Regions from separate parts of the Homo sapiens genome. Here region 2 is reported to be linked to region 1. Evidence: microRNA targets listed by miRTarBase, many of them from high-throughput screens and not tested one by one. Region 1 holds a microRNA gene; the other region holds the end of a gene's coding sequence.

Region 1 (4,395 bases):
GTTTTTTTTCTAACCTTTCCATGTATGTCACTCCCATCTCCAACAGTAAAACACCAACTTTTCACTATCAACAATTCATTTTATTTAACTAGAATCACATAAAGTAGCTTCATAATTGTTAATTCATGTTAGAGTGAGAAAACAGCTACAAATTAGAGTTCAATACATTCTTAATTTTTTTAGTCTTTAATATAAGCATATATAATCAAAGCACTGTGCTCAAAATTTACTCAAGTTAGCTCCCTCCCTCACCCCTTTAAGTGTGGTTATGTTATTTATTTGCAATACAAATGGTTAAAATCTGGAAAAATGTGAACATTAAAATAAATAGTGAAAGTAGTGAAATATACAAAATATAGAATGAAATATAACAAGTATTCATAAGTTCATAATGATATAAATGATGGATGAATGAGATAGAATTCTTCCTTACTGTAGAGTGTAAACAAATGAGATAGAAGTAATAATGGAATTAGAATATCACCAGAGCAATAATTATTTTAGGCAGAAGCATGAACTATCATTAAAAATAATGAGTAAAAATTTGAAAATAAACAGAGCATTTCCCCAAAAGATGCATATTAAACTCAAAATGGAAAAAAAGTAGATTTCTAGTGCAGAAACTTGGCAGATACCATCTTACTTGAGTGATCAAAGTCAAAATCACCATTAATGATGCTGTGTCTCCTGATATGATGTACTGAGAAGGCAACAGCACCTCTGAGGTTGATACAGTTTGGCTCCGTGTTCCCACAAAAATCTCACGTGGAATTGTAATAATGCCCATGTGTCAAGAGTGAGACCAGGTGTATGTAATTCAGTCACGGGGGCAGTTTTCCCCATGCTATTCTCATGATAATGAGTGAGTTCTCATGAGATCTGATGGTTTTGTAAGCATCTGGCATTTCTCCTGCTGGCACTCTTTCTCTCTCCTGCCACTCTGTGAAGAGGTGCCTTCCACCATGATTGTAAATTTGCTGAGGCCTCCTCTGCCATGCAAAACTGTGATTCAATTAAACCTCCTTTTTAAAAAATAAATTACCCAGTCTCTGGTATTTCTTCATAGCTGCATGAGAATGAACTAATATAGAGGTATTGCTACCAAAAATGTAAATCAAATCATAAAGAATGTCTGAAAAACCCAAATTGAGGGACAGTCTACCAAAAGAATGTCTTACACTATTCAAAAATATCAAGGTAATGAAATATAAAGAAAGCTCAATAAACTATTACAGATTATAGAAAACTGAATAAGCATTTTAGCTGAATGCTAAATCCTGATTTTTACTTTTCAATGTGATGACTCCCTCAGCAATGAATTTGAGGTGACAAGCACTATTTTAATTTCATTTTGTTCTCAGTTTTTATGTCTTTTTGTGGATGGAGGAAATTTCTAATATTTCAAAACTGAAGTCATTATTATTTAACAGATTTTGTTAACTTTTAAAAATATATTTCTGACTCTTGCACTTCTTTGTACCATCCAAAACAAGACACGATTTACTTAGGACTAATGTTCTTTTGTTAGGGTGGTTCTAGGGCTTAATAACACTAAAACCTTTATGACTTTAAAATGAAAAATTGATTCAATTTCTTCTCAGCTAAAAGCTTTCTTCCTTCTAGACACCACTTTTGCTTCTGAAAACTACTATTAATGTCTCAATGTGCTTTTGAGAGACACTAAACATAAATACATAGTTGATTGCTGAAGCAACTCCAAGGTGTTGATCATAAGCTGGAGATTTTTTTAGTGTAGTATCCTCTTTGTCAGAATTTTTATTTTCTTGAAATTTAGTGCAATAGCATAAAACTATTTTTATAGCTGATACATAATGTATGATTGGCCATAAATCTGAACTCTGTCTGGCATTGGACAGATACAAGTACCACAATATAATAAATTTATTACAATGACTGACTTTAATAGCCCCTCATAGTCTAAGTTCAAAGCATTAGAGCTTTTGGAATGTTCCACACTTTCCAAGTTCCAGCTCTTCCGTCACCTGCACCTGTTTAAATGGAGATAAATGAATTGAAAAGTCAGTTAATGTATAAATGTTCCGTTTGCCCACTTCCACATGGACCACTGGCAGTCAAAAGCCCGCTGACACTGCCACATCATAAAACTCCTAAAGTCTTCTCTTACTGATAAAACAAGCTAAGATTATTTAGCTCTCAGGGGATACTGAGTTAAAAGAAAATTGAGCTAAATGTCCTTTGCAGCTCTTAATGTAGTCAACATTAGATGAATTTTCCTCTGCAGTAGTCAGCCTTTACTTTATCCTGATGTGTGTTGTGGGCTGGAGCTTCTAGCTGATGGCAAGCTTAGGAAGAAAGCCTCAGCTGACAGAGCACTGCAACCTCTCCCAAGGCCACTAACTCAGAGTTAATCCAAGGCAAACCCAGAACCTTTACTGGAACACTGTTGAGGAAGGAGATGTCTCTCCTTGACATGAAGATTTGATGAAGCCTGGAGCACCTGGAGGCTGCCAGGAAAAGAGATCCTAGTCCTACTGTAGAGAAGAACTGAGTCATACACTGTGGGGAGGGACCTGGTCTTGAGGACATCATTAAATATCCTAGATCCAGCTATCCCTGAAGATTTTCTATTCCTAGAGTTTTCATTTATGTGAGAAAATAGATCCCTGCCCCCTTCTCATTTCTACTGAAGCCAATTTGAGGTGGGTTTTAAGTGTCTTGCATCAAAAGTGTCATGAAGAAGAGACTTCCTCATTCTATTGAAATAAAGATTGTTAAACTTGAGAGGGCTGTGATAAGGCTGTTGAAAAGCACGTCAGGAACATTTGGGAATCAAGGGAAGAATCTGACTCAAAATATCAGGGAAGTGACTGGTTACATATTTTGACAAGACTCCTCAGATATTTTGGATGATATCTTACACTTCTAGTATAAAAGGCCTGTGTTTAAGCCCTTGATGCAGCATTTAATGTGTACAACCTTGCCAAGTCATTTATTTTCTTAGGGCCTTGGTTCTAAAATGAAAATCATTACCCCTCTTATCTACTTTAGACTGATATAAGAAACAAATCGGGGAAAACGCGTCACGTGACGACTGGCCCCGCCTCTTCCTCTCGGTCCCATATTGAACTCGAGTTGGAAGAGGCGAGTCCGGTCTCAAAATGGAGGTAAAACCGCCGCCCAGTCGCCCCCAGCCCGACTCCGGCCGTCGCCGTCGCCGCCGGGGGGAGGAGGGCCATGATCCAAAGGAACCAGAGCAGTTGAGAAAACTGTTTATTGGTGGTCTGAGCTTTGAAACTACAGATGATAGTTTACGAGAACATTTTGAGAAATGGGGCACACTCACAGATTGTGTGGTAATGAGAGACCCCCAAACAAAACGTTCCAGGGGCTTTGGTTTTGTGACTTATTCTTGTGTTGAAGAGGTGGATGCAGCAATGTGTGCTCGACCACACAAGGTTGATGGGCGTGTAGTGGAACCAAAGAGAGCTGTTTCTAGAGAGGATTCTGTAAAGCCTGGTGCCCATCTAACAGTGAAGAAAATTTTTGTTGGTGGTATTAAAGAAGATACAGAAGAATATAATTTGAGAGACTACTTTGAAAAGTATGGCAAGATTGAAACCATAGAAGTTATGGAAGACAGGCAGAGTGGAAAAAAGAGAGGATTTGCTTTTGTAACTTTTGATGATCATGATACAGTTGATAAAATTGTTGTTCAGAAATACCACACTATTAATGGGCATAATTGTGAAGTGAAAAAGACCCTTTCTAAACAAGAGATGCAGTCTGCTGGATCACGGAGAGGTCGTGGAGGTGGATCTGGCAATTTTATGGGTCGCGGAGGGAACTTTGGAGGTGGTGGAGGTGGTGGCAGCAGAGGTAGTTATGGAGGAGGTGATGGTGGATATAATGGATTTGGAGGTGATGGTGGCAACTATGGCGGTGGTCCTGGTTATAGTAGTAGAGGGGGCTATGGTGATGGTGGACCAGGATATGGAAACCAAGGTGGTGGATATGGTGGAGGTGGAGGATATGATGGTTACAATGAAGGAGGAAATTTTGGCGGTGGTAACTATGGTGGTGGTGGGAACTATAATGATTTTGGAAATTATAGTGGACAACAGCAATCAAATTATGGACCCATGAAAGGGGGCAGTTTTGGTGGAAGAAGCTCGGGCGGTCCCTATGGTGGTGGTTATGGATCTGGTGGTGGAAGTGGTGGATATGGTAGCAGAAGGTTCTAAAAACAGCAGAAAAGGGTTGAATGAGAACCCTACTTGCCTAAATGAGGAATGTCTTTCCTACCATCTAAAATACGAAGGTTTTTGGCTGGGTAAGGTTTGTAGTTGACAGTAAAACCTGATGACCCCAAAAAAAAAAAAAAAAAAAAAAAGAAACAAATCGGCATGGATATGT
Region 2 (4,395 bases), not on the chromosome of region 1:
TGGGATTACAGGCACCTGCCACCATGCCTGGCTAATTTTTGTGTTTTTAGTAGAGACGGGATTTCACCATCTTGGCCAGGCTGGTCTTGAACTCCTGACCTAGTGATCCACCCGCCTTGGCCTCCCAAACTGCTGGGATTACAGGCGTGAGCCACCGCGTCCAGCACCTTCTAAAATTTTACTTCTTGCTGGGGCCTTCAGCGATTTTATCATAAAATCACCCAATTATGCTGACATGCTGTCACATGTCACAATCTATGTCTTATAAGCACATGGAAGGGCTTCTCAAGCAAAGTTATGTGTTTCATGAAAAAGGACAGATTGGTTGCTGCCACAAAAAGAGTTTCTCTAAATTTTTGCTTCCCTCAGATGCATGGTGTGACAAATGTAGCCTTTTTTTTTTTTAAGACAGAGTCTCGCTCTGTCGCCCAGGCTGGAGTGCAGTGGCGAGATCTCGGCTCACTCCAACCTCCACTTCCCTGGTTCAAGCAATTTCCCTCTCTCAGCCTCCTGAGTAGCTGGGATTACAGGTGCATGCCACCACGCCCAGCTAATTTTTTTGTATTATTAGTAGAGACGGTTGGCCAGACTGGTCTCAAACCAGGTTTCACCTGGTTGGCCAGACTGGTCTCAAACTCCTGACCTCAGGCAATCCACCCACCTTGGCCTCCCAAAGTGCTGGGATTACAGATGTGAGCCACAGCGCCTGGCCGCCTTTTTTACTTGCTTTTATAAACACCATTAATTTAAAGGCCAGTAACTTATTTCAGCTGCCCTACAGGCAATGAATATCCTTACTTGGACTACTGTAGACTTGGCTTCTTATAAAAACAATAATCTTTTTGGACAGAAGAAAACAAAGTATTTGGCTAATTAATTAATTAATTTGGCATTCTCAAACCTAGAGGCCATTACATTAAGAACTAGTTTGTAGTTGTTACATTTCTTTGTTTTGTCTCAGTGGATCCAGGGCTGGAATCGCCCCCATAGTGGCAGCAGGGGAGACCCCATCAGGGAGTGATCCAAACTATCTCGAGATAGGGCCGGCTGGGATTTCAAAGAAAGAAGCTCTAAGCGCCAGGGTGATCAATCCAAAGCATTTATTAGAGGAACTTCCTTACAGAGTGCTGCAGCAATGGTTGAGAGAGAAAAGGGGTGTTCTGCCCAGGTATATCAGCAGTGAGGGAGTTTCTATGACAGTTAAAGGAATTTGGCTCAGGGCCAGAGCCAGTTTCTTTTTTCTTTTTCTTTTTTTTTTTTTTTTTTTTTGAGACAGAGTCTTGCTGTCACCCAGGCTGGAGTGCAATGAGAGTCTTGCTGTGACCCAGGCTGGAGTGCAATGGCATGATTTTGGCTCACTGCAACCTCCGCCTCCTGGGCTTAAGCAATTCTCCTGCTTCAGCTTCCCGACTAACTGAGATTACAGGCACCCGCCACCATGCCCAGCTAATTTTTTTGTATTTTTTTTTTTTTTTTTAGTTGAGACGGGGTTTCACCATGTTGGCCAGGCTGGTCTTGAATGCCTGATCTCAGGTGATCCACCCGCCTCGGCCTCCCAAAGTGTTGGGATTACAGGCGTGAGCCACTGCGCCCGGCCCAGTGCCAGTTTCTTTTAGTGTTTTAGGGAACAACCTAGACAGATTTATCAGTGCCTGGGAATGTTCAAGGCCCGGTTTGGGTTCAAGCCTGCTAGGAAAAATCTGCAGCTGGCTAGGTGACAAAGGTCAAGGCACTCTGTGACTTTTGGTCAGGATACAGAAAGCAGGGGCAACTGGCAACTCTACACTTGTGAATAAGAAAATGTTCATTCTCTTCTTCTCTGGGATTTCCTAAATGATTGCTGGCACCTAGAGTATGAGAACCCTGCGTCGAACAATTTAATAATCAAATTGGTAGCTAGGTTGCAGTCAGCTTAATAGTTCACCTCTGAGGCCTCTTGGCTAATGTATATATTGGTAACTTTAATAAGAGTGGAGAGATCTGCAGGCAGCATCTTGCTCAAGTCACCAAAGTTAACCTCACCAGTGAGAAGACAACTGAGCATGTACCTCACCTGACTGGCTGCTGTGGGCAGCATCACACCTGACCTGAATCCCTTCACAGACCCAGCAGAGGGCTGTGTACAGAGCAGGTGCTCAGAAAAATCCATGCTGAAGTGAATTAAAAAATAAACAAGATCTTTGGTTTATTATCGGTTACAAAGAAAGAGGAGGTGTGGAAAGCTACTTCCACTGAGATAGCTTTCCTAACTGTTAGGTAGGAAAATGCCAGGGCTCCCACTGGAGGGCAAAGTAGAATCCAGAACACACCCATATTCTTGGTCCATTTCCCAAAGGTCCACGCCTGAGAGATTTCAAGCTGAGTAAAGGAACAAGTCTTCTGAAGATGCAGATTTTGGTTTTATTTCAATTCAGTACAGCATACACTAGTATAACATACTTTTTTTTTTTTTTTTCAAAATCACCAACCAAAACCCATCACTGATACTTTGATTGTCTAGGAAAGAAGGAGCCCCAGCCTTGTCACATACAATCTCTGTCCCTGGTGCAATGTCATCCTCACTGTGCTGTGAAAGGCAAGGCTCTCTCCTCACCCTAATAGCTCCTGTTTCCAGTGCTTGCCTGTCTTTCTTCCCAAGCGTTGGCCGGGCTGTGCTTTCTCAGTTAACCCAAAGGCTCTTGCAGGCCTTTTCCTCTCGGAAGTCCCCTCCCTCTCCCGAGAGAGAGAGCTGCTTTTTTTTCCTTTTTTTTTTTTTTTTTTTTGAGATCGAGTTTTGCTCTGTTGCCCAGTGCAGTGGCATGATCTCGGCTCACTGCAACCTCCACCTCCCAGGTTCAAGCGATTCTCCTGCTTCAGCCTCCCAAGTAGCTGGGACTACAGGTGCGTGCTACCACACCCAGCTAATTTTTTATGTAGAGACGGGGTTTCACCGTGTTAGCCAGGATGGTCTCGATCTCCTGACCTCGTGATCCGCCTGCCTCGGCCTTCCAAAGTGCTGGGATTACAGGCGTGAGCCACCGTGCCCGGCCTCAACTTTTTATTTATTAGCTTGTTGGTCTTCAACCTCTGTAAGCCTCAGTTTCCTCACTTATCAATCATCTACTGCTGTATAGAGACAGGTCCATCTCCTAGCATGCAGGGTGAGGCTAATGTGACATTTGAAAACTCCAGAGTGCTGCTGACAGTGGTTGGAGGTGAAGGAGGAGGAAATAAAAGCAATGTGAGAATAGCTTTAAAGAAAGGAAGGGCAAAAAGTTGAAAAGAAAGAGGCAGTGTGGAGAGATGGAGCCAACAGCAGCATGGGAGTCCCTGGCTAGGGTCAGGGCTTAGATGACGACATTGTTGGTTGGGTTCACTTGCCCTCTGAACTGCACAGGGAATCGAGCTGGTCATTAGACATGGCCTGGAGCCAGTCACTGGAAAAGGAAATCAATACCCAGACTGATTCTCAGAACAGCCACCATTTGTATGATTTTAATCCATAGAATCATTCTGAAAGCTTCTTAATCTTCACCTTTTTTCTGGACAGGAGACAGGTGGCTGAGCCTAGCCCTGGACTGGATCATATCTTCACACTTCCTTAAGCCACAGAAAACTTGAACCAGGTGGTGTGGTCATACTCCTCACCAGGCCTCAGCAGCACAGGAGGGAAGCGGGGCTGTGAAGGGGAAACAACACAGGTGATGCTTGACACCGCAGGCTGCAACATTAACCATTTGGGTGTGCTTCTGGACGGGCTTCTAGACCAGTGCTCTGTGGATGGCTGCCAGTGCGGGAACTGTTTATGATTGGTTCATAGTGAGATAAAGAACTTTAATCAGAGTGAAAAAAGCACACTTTGTTAAAGGAAGGCTTTCCTGATGAAGGGAAGCAGTGTGTTGATCTATAATCTGGTGTAAGGTGTAGGCTTTTTTTTTTTTTTTTTGAGATGGAGTCTTGCTCTGTTGCCCAGGCTGGAGTGCAGTGGGGCGATCTCAGCTCACTGCAAACCCCGCTTCCTGGGTTCAAGCGATTCTCCTGCCTCAGCCTCCAGAGTAGCTGGGATCACAGGCACCTGCCACCATGCCCAGATAATTTTTTTATTTTTACTAGAGACAGGGTTTTGTCATGTTGACCGGGCTGGTCTCGAACTCCTGACCTCAAGTGATACACCTGCCTCAGACTCTCAAAGTGCTGGGATTACAGGTGTGAGCCACCGCACCTGGCCCTTTTTTTTTTTTTTTTTTAAAGACAGGGTCTCATTCTGTTGCACAGGCTGGAGTGCAGTGGTGTGATCATGGCTCACTGCAGCCTTGACCTCCCAGGCTCAGGGATCCTCCCACCTCAGCCTCCCAAGTAGCTGGGGCCACAGGTGTGCACTACCACACCTGGCTAATTTTTCTAATAATCTGTAAA

What was found. Region 1 holds the annotated microRNA hsa-miR-4444 (CUCGAGUUGGAAGAGGCG, at 3,109-3,126, shown strand). A microRNA usually pairs through its seed, bases 2 to 8, with sites in the 3' UTR of a target mRNA and lowers its output. Matches are read on the target gene's strand: a 7mer-m8 pairs with bases 2 to 8, a 7mer-A1 pairs with bases 2 to 7 and ends in A, and an 8mer does both.
Region 2: miRTarBase lists GALM as a target of hsa-miR-4444. Seed matches in the 3' UTR shown: 7mer-m8 at 2,767-2,773.

The regions. Positions count from the first base shown.
Region 1 is chr3:75,211,410-75,215,804 of GRCh38, forward strand. It overlaps MIR4444-2 (microRNA 4444-2), which reads left to right and starts at 3,067; the gene lies at 3,067-3,140. It also overlaps the pseudogene HNRNPA3P6.
Region 2 is chr2:38,732,751-38,737,145 of GRCh38, reverse strand. GALM (galactose mutarotase) reads right to left here. Exons shown (of 7, transcript NM_138801.3): 7 at 2,381-3,658. The coding sequence ends at 3,581. It overlaps LOC124905993 (a long non-coding RNA gene), which reads left to right and starts at 3,596. Exons shown (of 3, transcript XR_007086292.1): 1 at 3,596-3,680.